Homo sapiens: one gene and its partner. The protein of the gene in region 1 interacts with the protein of each later gene in a pairwise test. Each region holds a gene or a part of one and is shown on either strand. Other genes may lie near its edges. The genes, in order: VIPAS39 and VPS41.

What was found.
Region 2: the proteins of VIPAS39 (region 1) and VPS41 interact in binary tests that used the Homo sapiens proteins (3 or more experiments, as listed by UniProt).

The regions. Positions count from the first base shown.
Region 1 is NC_000014.9:77,437,412-77,449,525, forward strand, and holds part of VIPAS39 (spermatogenesis-defective protein 39 homolog), read right to left. Parts: intron 11,947-12,114; coding exon 11,882-11,946; intron 11,140-11,881; coding exon 11,083-11,139; intron 6,931-11,082; coding exon 6,838-6,930; intron 5,742-6,837; coding exon 5,708-5,741; intron 5,252-5,707; coding exon 5,149-5,251; intron 3,683-5,148; coding exon 3,655-3,682; intron 471-3,654; coding exon 397-470; intron 1-396.
Region 2 is NC_000007.14:38,894,078-38,906,191, forward strand, and holds part of VPS41 (vacuolar protein sorting-associated protein 41 homolog), read right to left. Parts: intron 4,053-12,114; coding exon 4,014-4,052; intron 1-4,013. UniProt on the Homo sapiens protein: Plays a role in vesicle-mediated protein trafficking to lysosomal compartments including the endocytic membrane transport and autophagic pathways. Acts as a component of the HOPS endosomal tethering complex.

The DNA of each region.
Region 1 (12,114 bases):
CACTGAAAAAATGCATCAGGTCCCTAAAGTATTGCTATCTTTTTATTACCTAAGGTCATAAAAAAAGGTACAGCTCATTTTAGTACCAAAGAAGAAGAGAAGAGTGAGGACAAAATCCTACAATAAAAGATAACCTTTCAAATTAAATAAATTTAGCTTTAGGAAAAAAAATCTCTCTACATTTGTCTTTTTTTTTCCTCAGTTTACCATCAAGCAGTGGAAACTCTGCTGGGGACTAGTGTGTGAACACCACTGCATGAGGTGACCCTGAATGATGCTGGTATGATTCATTGTTAGCCCTCCCCTTCCTGCCTATCCATTCCACCCTTTTTAATTTTCTTCATTCCTTCTGGGTAAAGGTATTTATACTTAAAATCATTTTTCCCCCATACTTACCCAACACAGGTTTTAAGAAATTCTTTTCGTTTGTCAGGGTCCTGAATGTTCAAATGCTCTCGATAATGAGATAGCTACAAAAAGCAGAAAAAGGCTTTGAGGTATTTTGTCTCCTTAGATGAGGGAGATAGCTGATTAACTGAACTTCCCATGCTTTAAAAAAACAAATTCTTCATTTCTGGGTATAGATGGTTATTGGAGGCGGGTGGGGGGATAGGCAAAGAGTGACTAAGTATCATTAGTAGGTTTATCTATAACTGCACTGTACGATACAATAGCCACTAGCTACAACTGTTTCTTTAAATTTAAATTAATTAATGTAAAAATTCACCTCCTTAGTTAACACTAACCACTTTTAAAGAACTCAACAGCTACATGTGACTAGGAGCTACTATATTGGACAACACAAATATGGAAAATTTTTTTTTTTTTTTTTTTGAGACGAAGTCTCACTCTTGTTGCCCAGGCTGGAGTGCAATGGCACAATCTCAGCTCATTGCAACCTCTGCCTCCCAGGTTCAAGCGATTCTCCTGCCTCAGCCTCCCAAGTAGCTGGGATTACAGGTGCCCACCACCATGCCTGGCTAATTTTTGTACTTTTAGTAGAGGCAGGGTTTCACTATGATGGCCAGGCTGGTCTCGAACTCCAGACCTCAGGTGACCTGCCCAACTTGGTCTCCCAGTGTGCTGGGATTACAGGCGTGAGCCACCACGCCCGGCCCAAATATGGAATATTTCTATCATTGTAGAAAGTTCTATTGGCCAGTGCTGACCTATAATGAAGCACTGAGTAGATAGAGTACCAAGCTTTACCTTTAAGTTTCACTTTAGCCTCAGTATTTAACCAAAAATGAATATTTTGCTTCAGCTTTAGATTTTGAAAAGTCCAAGAGCTAAATACCTATTTCAGTGTTATTTTTGGCATCCTTGACCATGTACATGATCAATGGTAGTATGATCATGTAAATATCTAACAATTAACATCAGTAATATAAATAGGGCATGTCATTCTGACTCACTGTTCATAAATATTCTCAGATTGAGCCAACAGATGTATACAAAAATGTAAATGTATATAAAAATGTAAATGTAAAAATGTAAATAACATAAGACAGAATAACAGAAATTACATATCATAATCCAATCTTCGTAAAATAGTTCATATAAAATAGTTGGTATACAATCATTCCTAATATTAAAGAAAGTAACCTTTAAGAGCTATAGTTAATTTTTTGTTATTCAATTCCATTTCATCCTTAGGTCTTTCAAGAAAAGTTCTACATGGGAAACCTTCATATTCTGTGGGCATACACTAAAAGTGTACTATCAGCTTTGCCACTTCCAAAGTTTACAAGGTTGAAAAACTCAAAATCTATATACAACAACATGCATGATAAATCATCTTCAATTCGAACATAATGAGTATAAAGAAAATAAAGTTTTAGATAAAAATGAGTTACCCAAAACACATTTATTCTCACTAATGAAAATCAAAACAAAAAACTTTATAAGAATGCTGTAAGAAGAAAAATCCTTATAGTTTTGAACTTACAGAGATTTAAAAATATAAACAAACAGCTTTTCAAATGATTACTACAGGCTGCCAATCATTTTTAGTTGATTAAGAAAATGGATTTTTCAGATTCTCTCATGCTTTGAATATTAAGTACAAGTTCCTTTCAGAAAACATGTTACTGAGCCAGGTGAGGTGGTTCACATCTGTAATCCCAGAACTTTGGGAGGCCAAGGTGGGAGGATAGCTTGAGGCTAGGAGTTCAAGACCAGCCTGGCAAACAAAGTGAGACCCCCGTCTCTACAAAAAGATTTTTAAAAATTAGTCAGGTGTGGTCGTGTGCACCTGTAGTCCCAGCTACTTGGGAGCCTAAGGCTTGAGCCAGGAATTGAGAGTCTGCAGTAAACTATATGATCACGCACCACTGTACTCCAGCCTGTCTCGAAAAAAAAAAACCATGTTTCTGAAAAGCATTTTCAGTATTATATATATAATTATGCTGTTCAAAGGTTAACAATATTTAATGTGCCAACTGAATGTCTGTATGGATATCACAAATGTGTTGTACAATAACTAAAAAAGCAATCCTGCCATCGACAGTGCTGAGAAATTCTTTGAGACAAGGTCTCATTCTTTCACCCAGACATGACCTCCCAGACTTAAGCGATTCTCCTACCTCAGCTTCCCAGGTAGCTGGGACTACAGGCATGCGCCACCATGCTTTGCTAATTTTTTAAATTTTTTTTTAGAGATGGGATCTCACTATGTTGCCCAGGCTGTTCTCTAACTCCTGGACTCTAGTGTTCCTCCCACCTCAGCCTCCCAAGTGCTGGCATTACAGGCATAAGCTACCGTGCTTGGCTGGAAATTCTTATTCCTGCCAAGTTTTTTTTTTTTTTTTTTAACATGAATTGCTGAAGTTTTAATAATACAACTGAGTTTTTGGTAAAATTTCAGATTTATTCTTGTATTCCAGGAGTTCATTCCATGATTGTGAAAATCTGCCAAAATTTAATCTTAACACCTGGCCATTGAATTCTCAGCCAAAACGTGTATTGGGTGTATCATCAACTTGACCTATCTTCCTTCTTGACCTATATCTGGTTTCTTATCCTCTTAGCCTTCAACATTTTCTTTGTGAGAAGCCAAAACCCCAAAACTCCTAACAACCAGGACCTGAAAACAACCGAAAAACAAATTACAAATTGACCAGGCCAATTTTCACATGTTTATTTTTTAAAATTTATTCATAAGCCCAACCAAAAGAGCATATAAAAAGAAAGAATACATCATTTGGATTAAGTTTTCAGGTTTTCCAGGTGCCTCTCTCTTCTGTATATAATCAATATCAAAGGAAATAGTTCAATCAGTCTGGGATCTTGGAGGCGGGGGTTTGGCTTAGATTTCTGGGTTCGTGAGACAGAGTCTCACTCTGTTGCCCAGGCTGGAGTGCAATGGCACGATCTCAGATCACTGCAACCTCCCCATCCCAGGTTCAAGCAATTCTCCTGCCTCAGCCTCCCAAGTAGCTGGGATTACAGGTGCGTGCCACCACACCCAGCTAATTTTGTATTTTTAGTAGAGACAGGGTTTCACCATGTTGGCCAGGCTGGTCTTGAACTCCTGACCTCAGGTGATCCACCCACCTCGGCCTCCCAAAGTGCTGGGATTACAGGCGTGAGCCACTGTGCCCAGCCTAGATTTCTGTTAAACAGGTACCCAACTGAAACAAAGGCCACACTTACCGCAAGCTCTTCTGTTCTATCTAGGAACCTGGGAAGAAGCAGAAGGGAGCAGGGCATTTGTATCTATTGATGTGTGGCAGTATAACCTCACAAAATCGAGTGCCTCCTCTAGGAGAAACACAATTCAAACTCATTTCCCTCTATACACAAGATAAATGGTTGATCAGATATCATTGTTCCCCTGGTCTCTCTGGCTGAACAAAAAGCAAGGACAAGAAGGTACTGCAAGGAACTAATAACTTTGTTAACAGTTCTGACAGGGAGGCTCAGAGCCACCTACTCTAGCCCACAGAAAACTTGGTTGTTGTTTTTTTTTTTCCTAAGATTAAAGCACTATTCTCTGTCAATACAATCTTGAAAACAGATTTTCTATATTGTTCTTTACTGTTTTCATGGACAGAGTACAATGTGTTTTGTCTCCCCCAGACCTTGGAGCACCAGGACTTTTGTCTTCTGATTCTTCTTTACTCTGAATAGACCACCATAATTAACATTACCATTTTGGCATGGAGGTGATGCCTGATAAAGCCCTGTTGGTTGGGAAAGAGTAAGGGAGGGAAGGAAGGAGGGAGGAAGCAGCCAGCCTCTGTGACCATGTCTTCTTTTGCAAATTCCTGGCTAACATCTGTAATCTTGACCCTAACCAGGTAACCTGCTTTTCCCCACCTCAGTCTTTTGGGGAGCTCATTGCTGTGCTGGAGTCACTGGATATCAGTCACCTTGGGCCACATGTCAGTCTAAACAGAGGTTCTAACCCTTTCTCTGACACTGAAGAAAAGACATCATGTGCACATATTTTAATCCAAAGGTGGGAAATAGTCCCCACTGACTGGAATTAGAGGGAAGAAAAACATGATAGAAGACCTCAGCCCTCTTTACCCCCAGCAGACATGCCTACCTCTCACCTATCAGAATCCTACCTAGTTTCATAGGCCCATGCAAATCCTAATCACTTCCATGAGGCTTTCCCTGGGTATCCTGACTGAAAATATTTTCTTCTTCTCTTCTACTGTACTTCCCACTGGTATCACTTAGAATCAAGTAATAAAAGATACCTTTATTCTAGGTCTTTTGTAAGAAAACACTTAATAAATACTAATACTACAAACTAGGTATTATGCTAAGTGCTGGCTCACATACTAGCCCTTCATCTTCATAATAACCCTGTGGGTAGGTGTCATCATCTCCATTTGATCGATGTGAAAAACTCATGAAGAGGGTTGATAACTTGGCCAAGGTCACTCAATGAATGATGTGGGAGACCTATAATAGCATTCAACCCAAGTGCATGTGACTCCAAAGCCTGGTTCTTAACCAACTTGCACCTTATCATAAGCTATGCTGTACTGCTAGTTATCCCCTCACACTTCAATAGCTTGTCTTCCAAGCACTTCCAGGAAAAGGGCAGTTGGCGTCTTCTATTCCTTTGTATCCCTCAGAGTGCTTTGAAACAAGTACTTACTAAACTTTATAGACCAGATGATCAGTTCTTACCTGAAGAGGTCTAAAAGCAACTTTTGATCCCCTATTTCCTTAAGGAAGTGAATAAGATGTCTCAGGGCAACCTGTCGCACCTCCAGCTCTCGGAAGAGGATCTCTGTCAGACAGTCAGGAGTTAAGTTGAGAAAGATTAAAGCCAATTAGTCAAGTGTGAAATTGGTCTCCCTACTCACACATTCCAAATATTATCTCATCAAACCCTAACAAAAGCTAAGAATGGTTTACCCCTATGTCTTAATTCACCATCAACACACTCAGCTCATAGCCATTAAATCAGCTTTTCATTTCACACCAACCCAAACAGCAGGCACTTAGCATGGACTCTGACTTCTTCAAACCAACACAGCCATCTGAGGGGGCTCTGTGGTTAATGTAGTCATCACCCTAAAGGACGCCCTCAGAGATGTGATTTGTGCTCTGAAGTCTCAGGCCACCCCACTTGTCTCTGAAATAGACTTGACTAATGAATTCTGGTATGAAAGGCACATGGCATTCTCCCCTCGAATGTGGCAGACACCTTGCTGACTGAAGATTTCCTGCAAGCCATTCTCACCTTTGCTCAGTGTCCTCTTCAGGAAAATCAGAACCTACAGGAAAAAAGAACAAAGACTGTGCAAACTTTCCAACACAGAGTCATGCCCTGAGCACTACAGACACGGGGCCAGCAACTCATTAGCAATCTCTGAAGGTATAGCCAACAGCTCTGTATGTGATGCAAGGAAAGCCAATGGCTATCTGGAACTGAGCTGTGTCTTGAGAGTCCACACACCCGTGCCCATGCTGCTGAGAGACACCTCCCTCTGAAAGAGGATACGCTCACATCTCTTCTCCCTCAGATTGTTTTATATAACACATAGTAGCCAACCTTGTGTGTCTTGGTTACAATCAACGGTTTCACATAGGCTGGGCATGGTGACTCATGCCCATAATTCCAACACTTTGGGAGGCTAAGGCAGGGAGATTACTTGAGCCCAGGAGTGTGAGATCAGCTTGGGCAACATAGCAAGACCCTGTCTCTACAAAAAAATTTAAAAATTAGCCAGGCAAGGCCAAGCGTGGTAGCTCACGCCTATAATCCCAGCTCTTTGGGAGGCCGAGGCTGGTGGATCACCTGAGGTCAGGAGTTTGAGACCAGCCCAGCCAATGTAGTGAAACCCCATATCTACTAAAAATACAAAAATTAGCTGGGCATGGTGGCCCACGCCTGTAATCCCAACTACTTGGGAGGCTGAGGCAGGAGTATCACACAGTGAGCCAAGATTGTCCTACTGCACACTAGCCTGGGCGACAGAGTGAGACTCCATCTCAAAAAAAAAAAAAAAAAAACTAGCCAGGAATGGTGGTATGCACCTGTGGTCCCAGCTACTCGGGGACCTGAGGTGAGAGGATCACTTAAGCTCAGGAGGTCGAGGCTACAGCGAGCCATCATCACACCACTGCACTTCAACCTGGGCAACAGAGCAAGACCCTGTCTCCAAAAAAAAAAAAAAACAGGGTTCCACGCTTAGTGCATGTGGCACCAGCTAAGCCCTTAAAGCACAGATTACTTAGAATCCTACACCTCCAAGGGGAATCCAGGATCTTTACTTAACATTTAACACAAAATGTTAGTCTATTTGATTGGATTTTCAGAAACTAGTGAAAACAATAATTAAACAAACAACAACAAATCCGACAACTCACTGCAGTAATGACGTTTCCATCATGCATGCTTACTGCCTCTTCTAGGAGTTGTAGTTTGTCCTGTAAGGAGCGGAATCTCTCTAGTGAGCAAACCTGGCAGAATAACACTAGAATTAGTACACAAGAAGACAGTTTTCTTTATTCCTTTGTTGCTGGATACTAAAGAATAAGCAATAATGAAACAAAATGTCCCCAAGGAGAGTCTCTTTATTTTTACCCTATGGTCCCCAGCACTTATAAAACAGTTGGCTCCCACCACCCTCTCTAGTTCAGCCTGCTGCCCTATAAGATGCTAATGTCCTGAAGTCTTGATAAAGTCAACAGAAATCACTTGTTCTTTTTGAGACGGAGTCTTGCTCTGTCACCCAGGCTGGAGTGCAGTGGCTCAATCTCGGCTCACTGCAAGCTCCGCCTCCCAGGTTCACACCATTCTCCTGCCTCAGCGTCCTAAGTAGCTGGGACTAGAGGTGCCCGCCACCATGCCCGGCTAATTTTTTTTTAGTAATTTAATTTTTAGTAGAGACGGGGTTTCACTGTGTTAGCCAGGATGGTCTCGATCTCCTGACCTCGTCATCCACCCACCTCAGCCTCCCAAAGTGCTGGGATTACAGGCATGAGCCACCGCGCCCAGCCAATCACTTGTTCTTTTTTAAGAACCCTTATTCATAATTTGCATACAGTAAAACATACCCTATTTAAGTATATAGTTCAGTGATTTTTTTTTTTTTGAGACGGAGTCTCGCTCTGTCGCCCAGGTTGGAGTGCAGTGGCGCAATCTTGGCTCACTGCAAGCCCCGCTTCCCGGGTTCACACCATTCTCCTGCCTCAGCCTCCCGAGTAGCTGGGACTATGGGCACCTGCCACCACACCCGGCTAATTTTTTTGTATTTTTAGTAGAGACAGGGTTTCACCATGTTAGCCAGGATGGTCTTGATCTCCTGACCCCGTGATCCACCTGCCTCAGCCTCCCAAGGTGCTGGGATTACAGGCGTGAGCCACCATGCCCAGCCAGTATCTCATAGTTTCAACTCACATTTTCTTGATAACTATAATTTTAAGTATCTTTTAAAGTGATTATTGGTCATTCATGTATCTTCTTTTGTGATGTGTCTGGTCAACTCTTGTGCCAATTTTTTTATCAGACTGTACTTATCACTAAGCTAAGAGTTTTGTTGTTGTTGTTGTTTTATCTGAGACAGGGTCTCACTGTATTGCCCAGGCTGGAGTGCAGTGGCATGATCATGGCTCAGTGCAGCCTCGACTTCCTGGGCTCAAGCAATCCTCCCACCTCAAGCCTCCTGAGTAGCTGGGACCATAGGTAAGTGCCATCACACCTGGCTAATTTTTATTTTGTAGAGATGGGGTCTTGCTATATTGCCAGGTTTAATAAAAGTTTTATATATATTCTGGCCAAGTACAGTGGCTCACGCATATAATCCCAGCACTTTGGGAGGCCAAGGCAGGCAGATCACCTGAGGTCAGGAGTTTGAGACCAGTCTGGCCAACATGGTGAAACCTCCTCTCTACTAAAAATACAAAAATTAGCCAGGCATGGTGGCACACACCTGTTAATTCCAGCTACTCAGGAGGCTGAAGCAGGAGAATCACTTGAACCTGGGAGGCGTAGGTTGCAGTGAGCTGAGATCGCACCACTGCACTCCAGCCCGGGCGACAGAAGGAGACTCCATCTCAAAAAAAAAAAAAAAAAGTTTTATATATATTCTGGATGAAAGTCCTTTATAATATACGTGTTTTGAAACTACTTTCTCTGAGCTATGGTGGTCCTTTCATGGCTTTAACAGTGGTTTCTAAAAAAAAAATAAAAGTTTTAAATTTTGATGAAGTCCATTTTATCAATTTTTTCATTTATGGTTCATGCTTTTTGTGTCCTAGGTAATAAATCTTTGCCTAAGTCAAGATCATAAAGATTTTCGTCTATATTTTCTTCTAGAAGTTTTATAGCTTTAACAATTAATTTACATTTAGGTCTATGATCCATTTTATTTATTCATTTTTTCATTCCCAATCCTTAGAACCTGTGAAGTATAATCCATTTTATCTGCTTTTTTTTTAGAGAGAGGGTCTCGCTCTCTCGCCCAGGTTGGAGTGCAGTGATGCAATCACAGCTCACTGCAGCCTCAGCCTCCAGGGCTCAACTGATCTTCCTGCCTCAGCCTCCTGAGTAGCTAGGATTATAGGCACAAGCCACCACACCTGGCATTATGATCCATTTTGATCCATTAATTATTATGATCATTGCCAATTCTACCAAAATTGATCTGTACATTCAAGGCAATCCCAATAAAAATCTCAACAACTCTTTTGTAGACACTGCCAAGGTGCTACTAAAATCGATATGGAAGTATAAAGGATCTAGAACAGCCAAAACAATTTTGGAAGAGAACAACATTGAAGGTTGAAAGCTTCAACAAAGTTGAAGTATCTTGATTTCAACATTTATATAATAATCAAGACTGTAGTATTAGCTTAAGGATAAATAATCCAATGAACTAGAATAAAGAGTCCAGAAATAGGCCTACACATATATGATCATTAATTTTCTTCTTATTTTTTTCTTCTTGAGACAGGGTCTTGCTCTGTTGCCTAAGCTGGAATGGAGTGGCACAATCTCGGCTCATTGCAGCCTCGACCTTCAGGGCTCAAGCAATCCTTCCATCTCAGCCTCTCAAGCAACTGTGACTAAAAACATATCCTGCTATAAGATTATAAGTTACATTTATATATTTATAATTATAAATTATAATATACATTTATATTATAAATTAGCCACACCTGGCTTTTTTTTTTTTAAGATGGAGTTCCGCTCTTGTTGCCCAGGCTGGAGTGCAATTGCACAATCTCGGCCACCAGGTTCAAACGATTCTCTTGCCTCAGCCTCCTGAGAAGCTGTGATTTACAGGCATGTGCCACCACGCCCAGCTAATTTTGTATTTTTAGTAGAGACGGGGTTTCTCCATGTTGGTCAGGCTGGTCTTAAACTCCCAACCTCAGGTGATCTGCCTGTCTTGGCCTTCCAAAGTGCTGGGATTACAGGCATGAACCACCGTGCCCGGCCGCACACCTGGCTAATTTTTTTTTTTTTATCATTTGTAGAGACACGGTCTCACTATGTTGCCCAGCCTAGTCTTGAACTCCTGGGCTCGACAGATCCTCCCACCTTGGCCTCCCCAAGTTCTGGGATTACAGGCATGAGCCACTGTGACTGGCCCGATTTTCAACAAAAGCATCAGCAGGATAATTCAATGGGGAAAGGATAGTTTTTTCAACAAATAGTGCTGGAACAAATGGAGATCTACATGGGGAAAACAATTAAACTCAAACCCTTACATCACACCATATGCAAAAATGAACTCAATGAATCACAGATCTAACATAAAAGATTGTTCTCACTCTCTTTTTTTGGGCAGGGGGGCGGAGTTTCACTCTTGTTGCCCAGGCTGGAGTGCAGTGGCACGATCTCAGCTCACTACAACCTCCACTTCCCAGATTCAAGTGATTCTCCTGCCTCAGCCTCCCGAGTAGCTGGGATTACAGGTGCACGCCACCACGCCCGCCTAATTTTTTGTATTTTTAGTAGAGATGGGGTTTCACCATGTTGGCCAGGCTGGTCTAGAACTCCTGACCTCAGGTGATCTGCCTGCCTTGGCCTCCCAAAGTGCTGGGATTACAGGCGTGAGCCACCATGCCCGGCTTCTCTTTTTTTTTTTTGAGACGGAGTCTCACTCACCAGGCTGAAATGCAGTGGTGCAATCTCAGCTCACTGCAACCTCCACCTCCTGGGTTCAAGTGATTCTCCTGCCTCAGCCTCCCGAGTAGCTGGGACTACAGGTGCCTGCCACCACACCCGGCTAATTTTTTATATTTTTAGTACAGATGGGGTTTCACCATGTTGGCCAGGATGGTCTTGATCTCTTGACCTCGTGATCCACCCTCCTCGGCCTCCCAAAGTGCTGGGATTACAGGCGTGAGCCACCACCCCTGGCCCTGGCCTCTCACTCTTAAATGTACTTTTCCCTCTCATCCATCACTCTTTCCCCACTACCCCATCAAAGCAACAGTAATGGAGAATCAGAAATTTTGCCACTGACTTTCAACCTTAGTGGATTTATTTTCCCCCTGAAATTCATTGAACAAATGAGAACTGAAGAGAGGTCAAGAAATCTTCCCTGTGTGAACAAGCTGCCCAGCTTCCCAAAGAACCTCACAAAAATTCTCTGTCCTTACCTTGCCCTTCCGGAGACGTCGCACTGTATCACTGGGGCTCCAGTCATTGCTGTAATCCTGGAATATTAGCAATACGTGAATCCCAGGAAGTTAAGGAATCAAATTTATCAGCATACCCGCTCCTCAACTCAAACTCAGTCTTAGTGTCTAAGGGGGAAATAATTTGTGGGAGGGAATGGATGTGAAAAAAATGAAGAAATGGGACGGTTTTGTTTTGAGTTTCTGAAGGAACTAGAGCAGGGGCAATATAGATAGGAGGAGATGGATCAAAGAGGGAGGAGCCAATTGACAAAGCCAGTAGCCCCATGCCTACCAGTTCAGGACTGCAACCTCTAGATGAATTAGAATCACGTTTTAGGATTCTAACAATTAATGCCTTTGGCCAACAGAAGGAAAGAGAGAGATGTTGGAGACATGTTCCTTTTCCGACCTTAGGATATGGTTTCTTCCTTATGAATCAATTTGCTTTATTTGTTTCATGGGAATATGAGCTCTACCAGGCTTCCAGACTGCAGTGATGATCACTGGGTTTCAAAGTACAGCCTTCAAGTGGGAGCATAATGAGTAAGCAAAGTATGGCAGAGCTGAGTCAGAATATAGAGATTATAAGTCTAAGTTGCACCCTTTCCCAGCTCTGAGACCCCAGGTAAGCCCTCATGTTTAGAAACCCAGTTTTCTAATCTATAAAACAGGGTTAAAAAAATATCTACTCAAATAGTTGGGAAAATCAAGCCAGGTAACATATGTCAAGGTACTTTATACTGTGGAAAGTGTCACACCAGTGTATGCTGTAACTCACCCTATACTCCCCTTTGGGTCTCCCCAGCTCTGGAGCATAGCTTTTGGCAGGTGTGTCTGACAGAGCTGAAAAAGAATAAGCAGCTGGTTCAGAAGGGCACCATGAATCCTGCTTGTCATTCCTTCCCTCTACTTCTTCGTTCTCACATTTTTTTGACTTGTGGGCTCCCAATGTTAACTTTATGGCCAAAAGCAGATCTCCGTTCTTCCCCAAAGACAGCATCCCTAGAAGTC
Region 2 (12,114 bases), on another chromosome or scaffold:
CCTAGCACTTGAATAAGGAAAAGGTAGAAATATATAAGGAAAATGCCTGTCCTTCAAAAAAAGTTTAACAGTTACAAAACACGAGAAGAGATGATAGAGAACGAAGAGAAATGGATGAAGGAGGAATCTCTGGTGGACTGAGTGGTGTCTCAAAATATCGCTCCTGGAACTGGAAAGTGATTCAAACTGAGTAAAAAAACTCCAAAGTCTTCAAAGGCTCAACTGCAAACAGGCTTACTACACTTACAAGGCCTAAACCTGGTCCATCAACATCCTGACTACTTTGCTGGTCCATAAACTCAGTAGAATCAGTAATATCTAGGAGAGTAACTGTTTTCATAGAGCTAGAGGCAGCGGGGGGCACGGAGGCTAGGGTTGGGGGGAAGTGGGGGAGGAATCTCTCTAAGCCCTCAGGTTGAAGCACCAAGCTGGAAAATGAGCCACCATGACAATATCTAAAATATAAACTGAAGGTCATTAATATTTAGCAAGTGCTTCCCATGTGCTAGGCTCTATATAAGATGCTTTATGAACATTAATCGTATCTATCTTCACAGCAACCATACAAGGCAAGCAACAAGACCCATTTTTCACACGAGGAAACTGAAGAATACAGGAGGTAAGTGCTATGCCCAGGTCATACAAAAAGCACAAGGTATGGCCATGATACAAATGAGGGTCCACCTCCAGTTCTTTAGCACTATCCCAAGCAGTAGGCACTGGAGGCTAGACAGCAAGAAAATGGAAAGAGCCCAGAGTTGGAACCCCTTTCTCCTCCTCATCAGCTGTAGGACATTAGGCAATCAAGCCACATTTGGGTCTCACTTTCCTCAATCTTAAAATAACTACCTTTTCCTTCCATTTATCTCCTCAGTTTGGCCAAGTCTCATTCCCTAACTTCCTAGTTTCTTTGTCCATTTCTAATATAGTTTTTAAATATCTGATTTAAGGTACTTTACTGTGGCCAGGCACGGTGGCTCACGCCTATAATCCCAACACTTTGGGAGGCTGAGGCAGGCAGATCACTTGAGGCCAGGAGTTTGACACCTGCTTGGCCAACATGGCAAAACCCCATCTCTACTAAAAACACAAAAGTGAACTGGGCGTGTTGGTGCACACCTGTAATCACAGCTACTCAGGAGCCTGAAGCATGAGAATCGCTTGAACCTGGGAGGTGGAGGTTGCAGTGAGCCGAGATCGTGCCACTGCACTCCAGTCTTGGTGACAAAGCAAGACTTTGTCTAAAAAAAAATAAAAATAAAAAAATAAAAAAAACAAACCACGTTAAGGTAGTTTATTGTATCTGCAAATGCTTGTTTATAGACATTCAACTCATGATGGAGTGTTATGTTATTGTTTTCTGCTACTGAAACCTCTGATTCTGACTTTCTTTCTTCCTATAGTAGCTTTTTATGGATGTTACTTGTCATTTCAATTCATTTTTAAATGTCTTGGATTTTCCTGGATAGCAGTAACAGACGTTACCAGGGAAGAAGGGGTGAAGCATCTGTGTGGTTTACCAGGTTTCTGCATTTTCTTTTCTAGGAGGCATCTTTTTTTGGTGAGTAGGTAAGTCTCCTGATCTGATGATGTTCTTTGTTTCTGGGCACCCTTAATTTCCTCTGCTTTGTCCTTTTCTTTCACTGCCAAGCCGCTAAGGATGCCTCCCCCATCTCTGCCAAAAGCAGCACCATCCAACTCTTGTCACCTAAAGCCCTATACACTTTCAAGCTCCTTTCTTTAAATTCTCGAAATCCACCAAGTCTCACATCTGTTCTCAGATCTCCCCACTAAGAATGGGGCCCCCTTCTCACTAAGATGATTTTTATGTGCATTCTGCCTCGGCTGGGTCTCAGCTGTACTCTCTTTATTTCTACCCAGTCTCCATCTGACTGTCAGCTCCAGCGTCAACTCCAGAGCCGACTCTGCTGGCTTTGGATGTTTATTTTCCCACTTGCACTGAAGTTTGTATTACTCCCCATTTGCTAATTATACTAGAGGCCTAGATTGTGTGTGCTTTTATTTACTCTTTGTTGAGCTGTTTAGTATTTGGAGCATGTGTGGAAAGATTTAGATTTAGGTGGCTGCCAACACCCTCCTCACCTGCAAAATGAAATTCCTCAACAGAGTTCCAGCACTGTCTGATTCTGTACCAATGATTCTAAGAACACTGGAATCTTAGTTAATTAGAGATTTCCAAAATAAGGTAACCTAAAATGCTTTTCAATACTGTATGAGAAATTAACAAATATACCCTATCTATAAGCAAACTCAGAAATGCCTTACCAGAAGCCCCACAGTAATGGAAATCCTTATTAATGAAAATGTTAGAAACCATGACTACACAATGACATAATACATAACAAGCTTGTCCAACCCATGGCCCGCAGGCCACATATGGCCTAGGATGGCTTTGAATGCAGCTCAACACAAATTCATAAACTTTCTTAAAACACTGTTTGATTTTCTGCTGCAATTTTTTTTAGCTCATCAGCTATTGTTAGTGTATTTTATGTGTGGCCCAAGACAATTCTTCTTCCAATGTGACCCGGGGAGCCAAAAGATTGGACATCCCTGATATATAATCTGTTCTCTAGAGAAATATGCATAAGTCCAACTTTTCCCTGGAAAAGCAACAAAATTCACATAAGCTTATGCAGTATCAACCCAAATGTAATAGATTATCATGGCTAGAGTCATATCAGTGTGTATTTCTAGCAGGTTATCACAGATACATTTTCATTCCTCTGAGCGAAATGAAATATTAAAAGGAAAAATGTAATTCTTCTTATGAGTCCATCTATAAAATTGATAAGCCAATTACATTATGCTTGGGCCAGGTGCAGTGACTCATGCCTATAATCCCAGCACTTTGGGAGGCCAAGGCAGGCGGATCACCTGAGGTCAAGAGTTTGAGAGCAGCCTGGCCAACATGGTGAAACCCTGTCTCTACTAAAAATACAAAAATTATCTGGGCATGGTGGTGGGCGCCTGTAATCCCAGCTACTCGGGAGGCTGAGGCTGGAGAATCACTTGAACCCAGGAGATAGAGGTTATAGTGAGCCCAGACTGCACCATTGCACTCTAGCCTAGGTGACAAGAGTGAAACTCTGTCTCAAAAAAAAAAAAAAAAAAATTTATATTATGCTTAAACATTTCTTATGCAGACTTGAAAATAAATTTTTTAAAAACTCCTTCCTTATATATTATTCTCCTTAAGAAACTATCTTTATCACAATAACCTAACAACTTTTAAAGTAGCTCCCTTTTTAAGAAGCAAACTCCAGGCCGGGCGCGGTGGCTCACGCCTGTAATCCCAGCACTTTGGGAGGCAGAGGCGGGTGGATCACAAGGTCAGGAGATCAAGACCATCCTGGCTAACACGGTGAAACCCTGCCTCTACTAAAAATACAAAAAATTAGCTGGGCGTGGCGGCGGGCGCCTGTAGTCCCAGTTACTCAGGAGGCTGAGGCAGGAGAATGGTGTGAACCTGGGAGACGGAGCCTGCAGTGAGCCGAGATGGAGCCACTACACTCCAGCCTGGGCAACAGAGCGAGACTCCGTCTCAAAAAAAAAAAAAAAAAAGAAGCAAACTCCAATTTCAATGATTCAAAAATTATACCAACAAACATGTCACATTCATTAAAAGAACAAATAAAGAATAAACATCATAAAACCTACAGTGGCTATTTTTAAAAAGCAGGTGAGGGGGATGTTAAAGTGTTGAGATAAATTTCTAAAACTTTGTATCAATTTTCCAACTGCCAACATGTTTCAAGTTAAAATATTGTTTCAGATGAAAACTTTTTGTTCCTTTTCTTATTTTTTAAGCTAATCCATTTAATCTTTTTTAAGATAGCTGGCATATTAAAAGCTCTTCCCCAAGGCTTAGTTACCTATCGCCCTGCTTTACACCCTCAGCCCCTGGGAATGTTGCATTTAGCAAAGAAGCGCAACTCAAGAGAACAACGTGGTGAGCTACAAATCCGAGGGCTCCTGAGTCACCACCTTACCTCAGACTCATCTGTAGATTCTTCAAGGGACCCAGTTTCCTATAAAGCATAGAAAAAGAAAATGGTCAGAAGAGATGATAAAAGAATAATCATTTGCAAGGGGAAAGAGTCCTCATGTTCCTACTACCACGCATCTGCCCTTTTTGGAAGAGAATCTACAACTATACTTTAGAGGACCACATGCTCTGACTTTCACATGTCTCCTGCAACTTCTCCACACCCTGGCAGGCAGATCCTGCTGCTCTCCCTCAAAGAGTTAACAGGTAAACAAATTACCCCAGGAACTTATCATCTGAGGGCCTGGAAGACTCTCTCCCTTGTTAATAATGGAAACCCATCTGGCAAAGCAGCCTCACTAATCTCAGAAGGGAAGAGGAAACTGCCATCTCATGTTATCTACAAGCCAATTTTTATACTGAAAAGTTCTTGTGCTATTAATTATCATGCTATTAATCTGGTTGAGTTAAAATGACTGTCTTGCTAAAATAGCTTTTTAAAAGAATCTCCTACAGTGGTACCTATCAGACCCTGTGTAAACAAGCTGTATAATTTACATGCACTCTTTAAACCATCACCACTAAGACAAATTCTGCCATTTAACACAGTTTCCCTCTCGCTAGACAATGAATCTTGCTGCTCTGAAGGAAACAAAGCAAAAAGGGAAAAATTGACTTGATCCTGCTAATCTCTCACCTGTCCAGTGAAAGAGAGAATCTGCTGATGCCATGCATCCTCAAAGAGGTCAGCAAAATGAAGATTTACTTAACGTACTTATAGATATCAATAGCAATAAAAGGTTACAACTAATATGCTGACACTGAATGTAAGCACTTTACAACAATCCATGAGATAAACAAAGAACAAGAAAAAAATGGGGCAAGGACATTTTAGATATAACTAATACATTTTCAAGAAAAAAATGAACATTTTAAGGAAGATCGATGCATATATTACTCAATACAAGTTGGACAGCGGGATAAATGTAAATCTAGTGTTTAAAATCATTTTAATTTCATTCATCAAAAATTAGCAAGAGCCTGACAGGTGGCAGGCACCTTCCAAAGTACAGCCTGGAGGACAACACAGTCCTTGCCTTCAAAGGCCATGGGTAAAATGGGGATATGTTCCTTGTAATTAAGAATTTTATTATACTTGTATCATTAACCACAATGAATATTAGAATCTCCTCTGTAACTCAATGCAGCCTGTTTAGCTTAATGTCAATCCAAGTCTCATAAAGTTCTTATTCATTTGAAGCTACAATAATCCACAGTAACATTTTTGTTCTTAGCACTACATAAAAAAAACAATTATTGCACTACATGATAGCTGTCCAGAGAGTTAATGACATGTATCATGTTCCACCTTCTAAAATGTTTCTCCTCTGCACTCACCATCACAGTTCCTGGTTTTAGTCCTCTTACTGTACTGATCCTTCTCTTGTGGACATAGTCCACTTTAACATTAACAATCACTATTCTGACTTCTTTACTGAACATCTATTATAAACTGCTCATTATGTTCCATTCACCACCCACAACATTATAAACTTTCCTAACACCACTGGGGTTGGAAGAGTGAGGCTTAGAGGTTGAGTTTAATGACTTCTAACATCCTTTCCATCTCTGTGAGTCGCTGAATATTATGTTATTAGCATCAGCAATACAAGGCTTTGATAACTATGCCAATAAACCACACTTAAGATTCCTATTTCCTGTATGTACAGTTCTAAAAAGACACTTGAGTACTCTTTCAGGAAAATCACATTAAACCTAAGGAAATTTTTTTTTCCTCATATAGAATCCACTCAAGTATGCACATGAGGTAAATGGGTGAATACCCCATTTATGTTCTTCATTAAAACAAAAACATCTGGGCTGGGCACAGTGGCTCACGCCCGTAATCCCAGCATTTTGGGAGGCCGAGGCAGGTGGATCACCTGAGGTAAGGAGTTCAAGACCAGACTGGCCAACATGGTGAAACCTCATCTCTAGAAAAAATGAAAAGAAAATTAGCTAGGTGTGGTGGCATGCACCTGTAGTCCCAGCTACTTGGGAGGACCACTTGAACCCGGAAGAATCACTCGAGCCCAGCAGGTCAAGGCTGCAGTGAGCTGTGATTGCGTCACTGCGTTCCAGCCTGAGGAACAGAGTAAGACACTGTCTCGATTAAAACAAAACAAAACAAAACAAAATTATCTTAAGTGAAACAACTCAGAAACAGTCAAATATGCATGTTCTTACTTATAAGTAGAAGCTAAATAATGTGTACACGTGGACAAAGAGTAGAGAATGGCAGACCACGGAGACTGGGAAGGGTAGATGATGAGAAAATTATTTAATGGATACAATATATATTATTCAGGTGACAGTGACACTAAAATCCCAGAGTTCACCACTATGCAATATATGTAACAAAATTGCACCTGTACCCATTAAATGTATGTAAATTAAAAAAGAAAAAACAGAAGTCTCCAACCAGCAATTTCAATCCAAAAACTCAAAATCAAATTACACTCTTTCTCCACACCAGAAAGCATGCAGTGCCAGAATTTGACACCGTGAGGCAGGAAGATCTGAGACCTGAATCTTCAGGGAAAACTGGGCTCTGAGAGTAGCTTCTTTGGCTATGGAATTGATGGAGAACATTTACTCTAGGAAACTCTGAGACTTGCCTTCAGCACCACTACGAACATCTCACACAGACAGGCGATCTCAAAAAAAACTTGTTTCCACAATCCTACCAAAGCAATGCATGAGTGATGTCAAGAATTAGGCTGGTCTGTTATTTCTTAGCTTCATTCATTCATCAAGCCCTCTAATTAATATGCTAGAGAGAGAAAGGCAAAGAAGACGTAAAGTAAATGTCCTCATTAAGAAATCCAAGAAGGCTGAACTTTGAGAAAGGTAACAATTTGAGAATGAGTCAGTGGTTTTCAAACTTTTTTTTTAGCTTCACACTCTCATTTAAAGAATCTAACTTCAAATCCTGAAATGTAAGTTATAAATTATGCTGTTTTCAAAGTGAAATAAGCAAGACACAAAAGGACAAATATTGCATGATTCCACTTATATAACACAGAAGTAAAACAGAGGTTACCAAAGGCAGAGGGAGGATGTAGTGGGGAGTTACTGTTAAATGGGTACAGAGTTTCAGTTTGTGATGATTAAAAGTTCTAGAGAGGCAGAGTGGTTGTCTTAGTACATTTGTGTTGCTCTAAAGGAATACCTAACTAAGGCGGGTTAATTTATAAAGAAAAGAGCGTTATTTGGCTCACGGTTCTGCAGTCTGTACCAGAAGCACGGCACCAGCATCTGCTTCTGATGAGGGCCTCAGGCTGCTTCTACTCATGGCAGTAGGTTGAAGGGTAGCTGGCATATGCAGAGATCACATGGCAAGACAGGAAGCAAAAGAGGGCAATGGGGAGGTGCCAGGCTCTTTTTAACAACCAGCTCTCTTGGGAACTAATAGAAAGAGAACTCACTATTTCAAGGATGGGACCAAGCCATCGTGAGAGATCTGCCCCCATTAGATCTCCCACCTCTAATACTGGGGAACATGAGATTTTAGGTGGACAAACATCACAACTACAGCAGTGGTGATGGTTGCACAACAATGTGAGTGTATTTAATGCCACTGAATCATACACTTAAAAATGGTTAAGGTGGGGGTGGCTCACACCTGTAATCCCAGCACTTTGGGAGGCTAAGGCAAGAGGATTGCTTAAGGCCAGGGAATTTGAGACCAGTGTGGGCAACACAGAAAGATCCTGTCTCTACAAAAAAAAATGTTTTCAACTTTTTTAATGGTTAAAATGGTAATTTTATGCTATGTGTATTTTACTATAATAAAGTGCTGTTGATCAAAGCAAAAGTGATAGGCTGGAAGATACCCAGTGACACAAATGTCTATCTGAGCCAATTCTGGGTAACGGATTGACAGTTAAACTCAGAAACATTTCATTTTACCTTTCTTTTGCAAACCAATCCCTTAAGCCCAACCACCTACCCAAACAGCTTTACTGTGTGATTTCTGTGCCTTGACATGTGGCCTCTCTAATGTACTCATCACCTGCCATCAGGATTATCTTCCCAAAGCACAGACCAGACGGCCACTGCCCTCCTCAAACAACCCTCAGTAGTGCTCCAGCCTGAAGAATAGCTTTCAGATTCCCCAGCAAAGTAGTCAAAGTCCTTCCCAGTCTGGCCCCCAACAGACCTTTAGCCTCACTCCCCACTCTCTCCACAAACCTGTGACCCTCCAGCCACACTGGAGGACCCCTCGCCGAGATATTGCTTATATCTCTGTGCCACAAGTGGCAAATCAGTGGCCTGGGGTCTGGATATGGCCTGCAGGTGTTTTGTTTGGCCTAGGTGGTGTTTTTAAAAAAGCTTCCATATAAAAACCTGTACTCCTGACTGTATGTCTACATAAGATCCACACTTCCACATACCATCAGTTGCAGCTGAGCGGTTACACCCAGGACAGAATGCACTCCACCACCCCCACCACTCCCAATTTCTGACACCAAGGCACGCCTGCTCATGTGCACCACCCCCTGCCTGCCTGAGTTTGTGCTGCCTGCTCTGCACTTTCCTCATGTCACTCCCTCCATTTAGAAGGCCCCTGGCCCCATCCTGCACTCATCCTGATGGAATGCTCTACAGGCTCAGTGGGTCTCTCAGGGATACCCCAGGGAGAGGTTGCCAGGCACTCAGCCTGAGGACATTCACTCTCTCTTCAATATCAGAGCTTGGTTTTTACGTTTCTTCCCGTACCCCTCAGCTAGCACCTAATATTAACTGCCTTGTCCTACAAGTTCTCATTTTAAATATGCTGTGGATAAACCCAAAGGCTTTGCCTTCTTTGTCTCCCAGTATCCTACTGGAAAAACATGTTGCTGGTGATGATGATGAGACAAGCTGCCAATCTAAAACAAATTCTTCCTCCTCCATATGTTGCCTTTCCCTTATGAGCAATACCAAGCATATTTTCTCCAGACTCATGTCTGAATTATTAGCTTATGAACTGTAGGACAGTTACAGAAAGGGAACTGCAGGAAGGTAGCACCTTCCAACAAATGCAGCAATTCCAACAATTCCTTGGGCTCCTAGAAGACTTCTCTCATACAGGCTTTCAACCAGCCCCCATCCCTAATCCTCCCATCAGCATAGAACCCTATGACAATGGCCTGGGAGAAGGCTTGGCCCAGCTGGCCTCAGAGGTCAGGAGTGGTGAAAAGGAAGACTGTCAGCCCAGGACAGAGAGGATCCAGGACTTGCCTGGGTTGTGAAGTCCTCAGAATTGTAAGTGCCCACATACTGTTGGGGAAGAAAAACAGAATTTGGGGGAGAAATGGTAGCCTGGGGCCTAAGGAAGGCCACTCCAAACTTTGCAGGAGGGCTCACCTGGGTCTGTGTTGCAGGAAAAAAAAGAGCAGAGACCAGGCTCCAAGAAATCATCTATCTCCATCTATGCCTGGAGGTACATGTGAACACTCACTGAGGTACTGCCACCTTCTCTGTCTTCCCAACAAACTATGCGCCCTAGCTGAGCATAATGAGAAAGAGAGTTCTGATATAGGCACTGTCTGATATAGGCACAGGAAGGAGGAAATATTTTGTGTGGTATGTATGTGATATCCCTGTTGTCACAGAGCTTCAATTTAAAAAACCTCAAAGGAGTTGTGGCCAGCTTTAGACACTCAGGGACTAGGCTGGTTGAGTAGTAAAGATGAGGACTCAGGTTACCAAGCCCATTCAGCCTACTGGGCTCAGCTACTGCACTCATCTTATTCTGCAAATGAAGAAAAATCTTGACGTGTGCCCCAGCGTGGAAAAGAGGGCAAACTTGGTAACCAGGTGACCCAGTCCCAAATCTGCCTTTGCATGAGAATCATCAAAACTCAGTTTGGGGAATTAGCTAATACCCACTAACACACTCCATCTGCACAGACTCTGATTCAGTAGGTTTAAAATAAGAGCCTGGAATCACAAGCCATTTTTAACAAAAACAAAAACAAAAAAACCATAAGGAGGCCCAGGCATCAAGAAGAAACAAAGGCAACAGGGGACTGCACAGCCATGAATGGGAAGTAGCATGAGACACAGAAGCCCCTGATCTGATGAGTGTCCTCTCTCCAAGGTGTTAATGTGGGCGCGGCGGAGGCTACTAATAATCAGCTAGTGAAGTGGCCTCTAGCCGACCAATTCAGGTGAAGATAAGTGGAAAAACTAACAAAGCAATCCGCTAGTCCAGCAAAACTAATCTGTGACTACATTTTAGTTACATGATGGGAAAGAGTGCACCCTCTAAAATCTGTCTGATTCTATACTTTTAAAACTTCTTGTTTGGGTTTTGTTTTTCCTTTAGTTAGTAGTAACACTGCCTTTAAAATATCTATCTTAGCCAAACTGTAAGAAAAGAGAATTGTGCATACGTAAGCCAAGTCCAGGTTTCGATGATTAACCTCTGTCTTATTTATACAACCATTTCAACCTAGCCACTTTAACATACTTTATATTCACAAAAGTTTTAACATACTTCATACTCACAAAAGTTTTAGAGAGTAAAATTCCCAGTTACAGGCAAGAAAATCGAAGCACTCAAATTTGTATTGATTTGATTTTTATTGTAACATAATCACATGGGGATATACATGACAAATATGACATCTAATAATCCATAAGTGATCTACAATAAGGACAGAATTCCCCTAATTTCTAAAATGCAGAAGGAGAATTCAAAGTAGAAACTCTCCTACTTGATTAAGAAATAGATGGTCTAATCGTGGAAATACTTTAATGGACCAGGGTCCAGGTTGGTTGATTAGGAAGATCAAAGGGTACCTGGGGAGCAGGCAAGAGTAAAGAAAGTATAGAATGTAACCTACATTATAGTATAGATGTAATCCACATTACATCTGAATTAATAACTTAAAAAAGGTGCAAGTAAGATAAAATAATTTCACGCAAATCCTACTAATATACAATTTGACAATTTGAAATGCTATTTTCCCCCTAATAAATTCATTTAAACACTTTACTAAACACTTAGTACCTATAAAGCACTAGCCCTGTGGAAGATACAGACATGAGTAAGTTCTTGTTCTTATTCTTGAGGACTCAGCAATCTCTAGGAGAGATAAGACAAATACACAAACAACCAGACTTCAAGCAGAATGTTATTCATAAGAAAGATATGGACAAATACTGTTGGGCATCTGTGAATATGAAGGTCAACTATAAATCGTTTTGGAGCTAAGCAAAACTGCTGGTTAGAAGATTTCCAGGCAGAATGCAGGGTATTCATTTTTTCTGTAAACTATAAAATATATATGTAGTTACTTTTGACAACTACCTTTACCATATTAGGCAAAAGCAAGAATTTCCCAGTGACTTATAAAAAAATTTTCATTCATACCTAAAAAGTGGTTTTAGTTTCAGATCCTCTGAGCTGTTTTATACCACAATAACTCAGTGCAGATGTCACTATTTTGGTTCTTCTGAAAATAAATGGGGAGGGGAGCAATCACCAAAGAAACAACACTCACGAAAGATAATGTGGAGACATTTAGTTTTGTGTTGCTAATCCTGGAGATTACTGGCATTTATGATACATGATACCAAGAAAAAAATGTATGCCAAGTTTTCTAAAAAGTTCAATAGAACAGTTATTTTCTCCATTTTTGGGGGTTTTTTTGTTGTTGTTGTTTGTTTTTGAGATGGAGTCTCCCTCTTGTCACCCAGGCTGGAGTGCAATGGCACAATCTCGGCTCACTGCAACCTCTGCCTCCTGGGTTCAAGTGATTCTCCTGCCTCAGCCTCCCGAGTAGCTGGGATTACAGGCGCCCACCACCATGCCTGACTAATTTTTTTGTATTTTTAGTAGTGACGGGGTTTCACCATGTTGGCCCGTCTGGTCTCGAACTCCTGACCTCAGGTGATCCACCCGCCTCAGCCTCCCGAAGTGCTGGGATTACAGGCATGAGCCACCGCACGCAGCCCTATTTTCTCCATTTTTATACACTTTTAGCTTTAAAAAAATGGTATAATAAAGCCCTACTACCGTCATCAGATTTCAATGGCTTCCTACTGTGAAA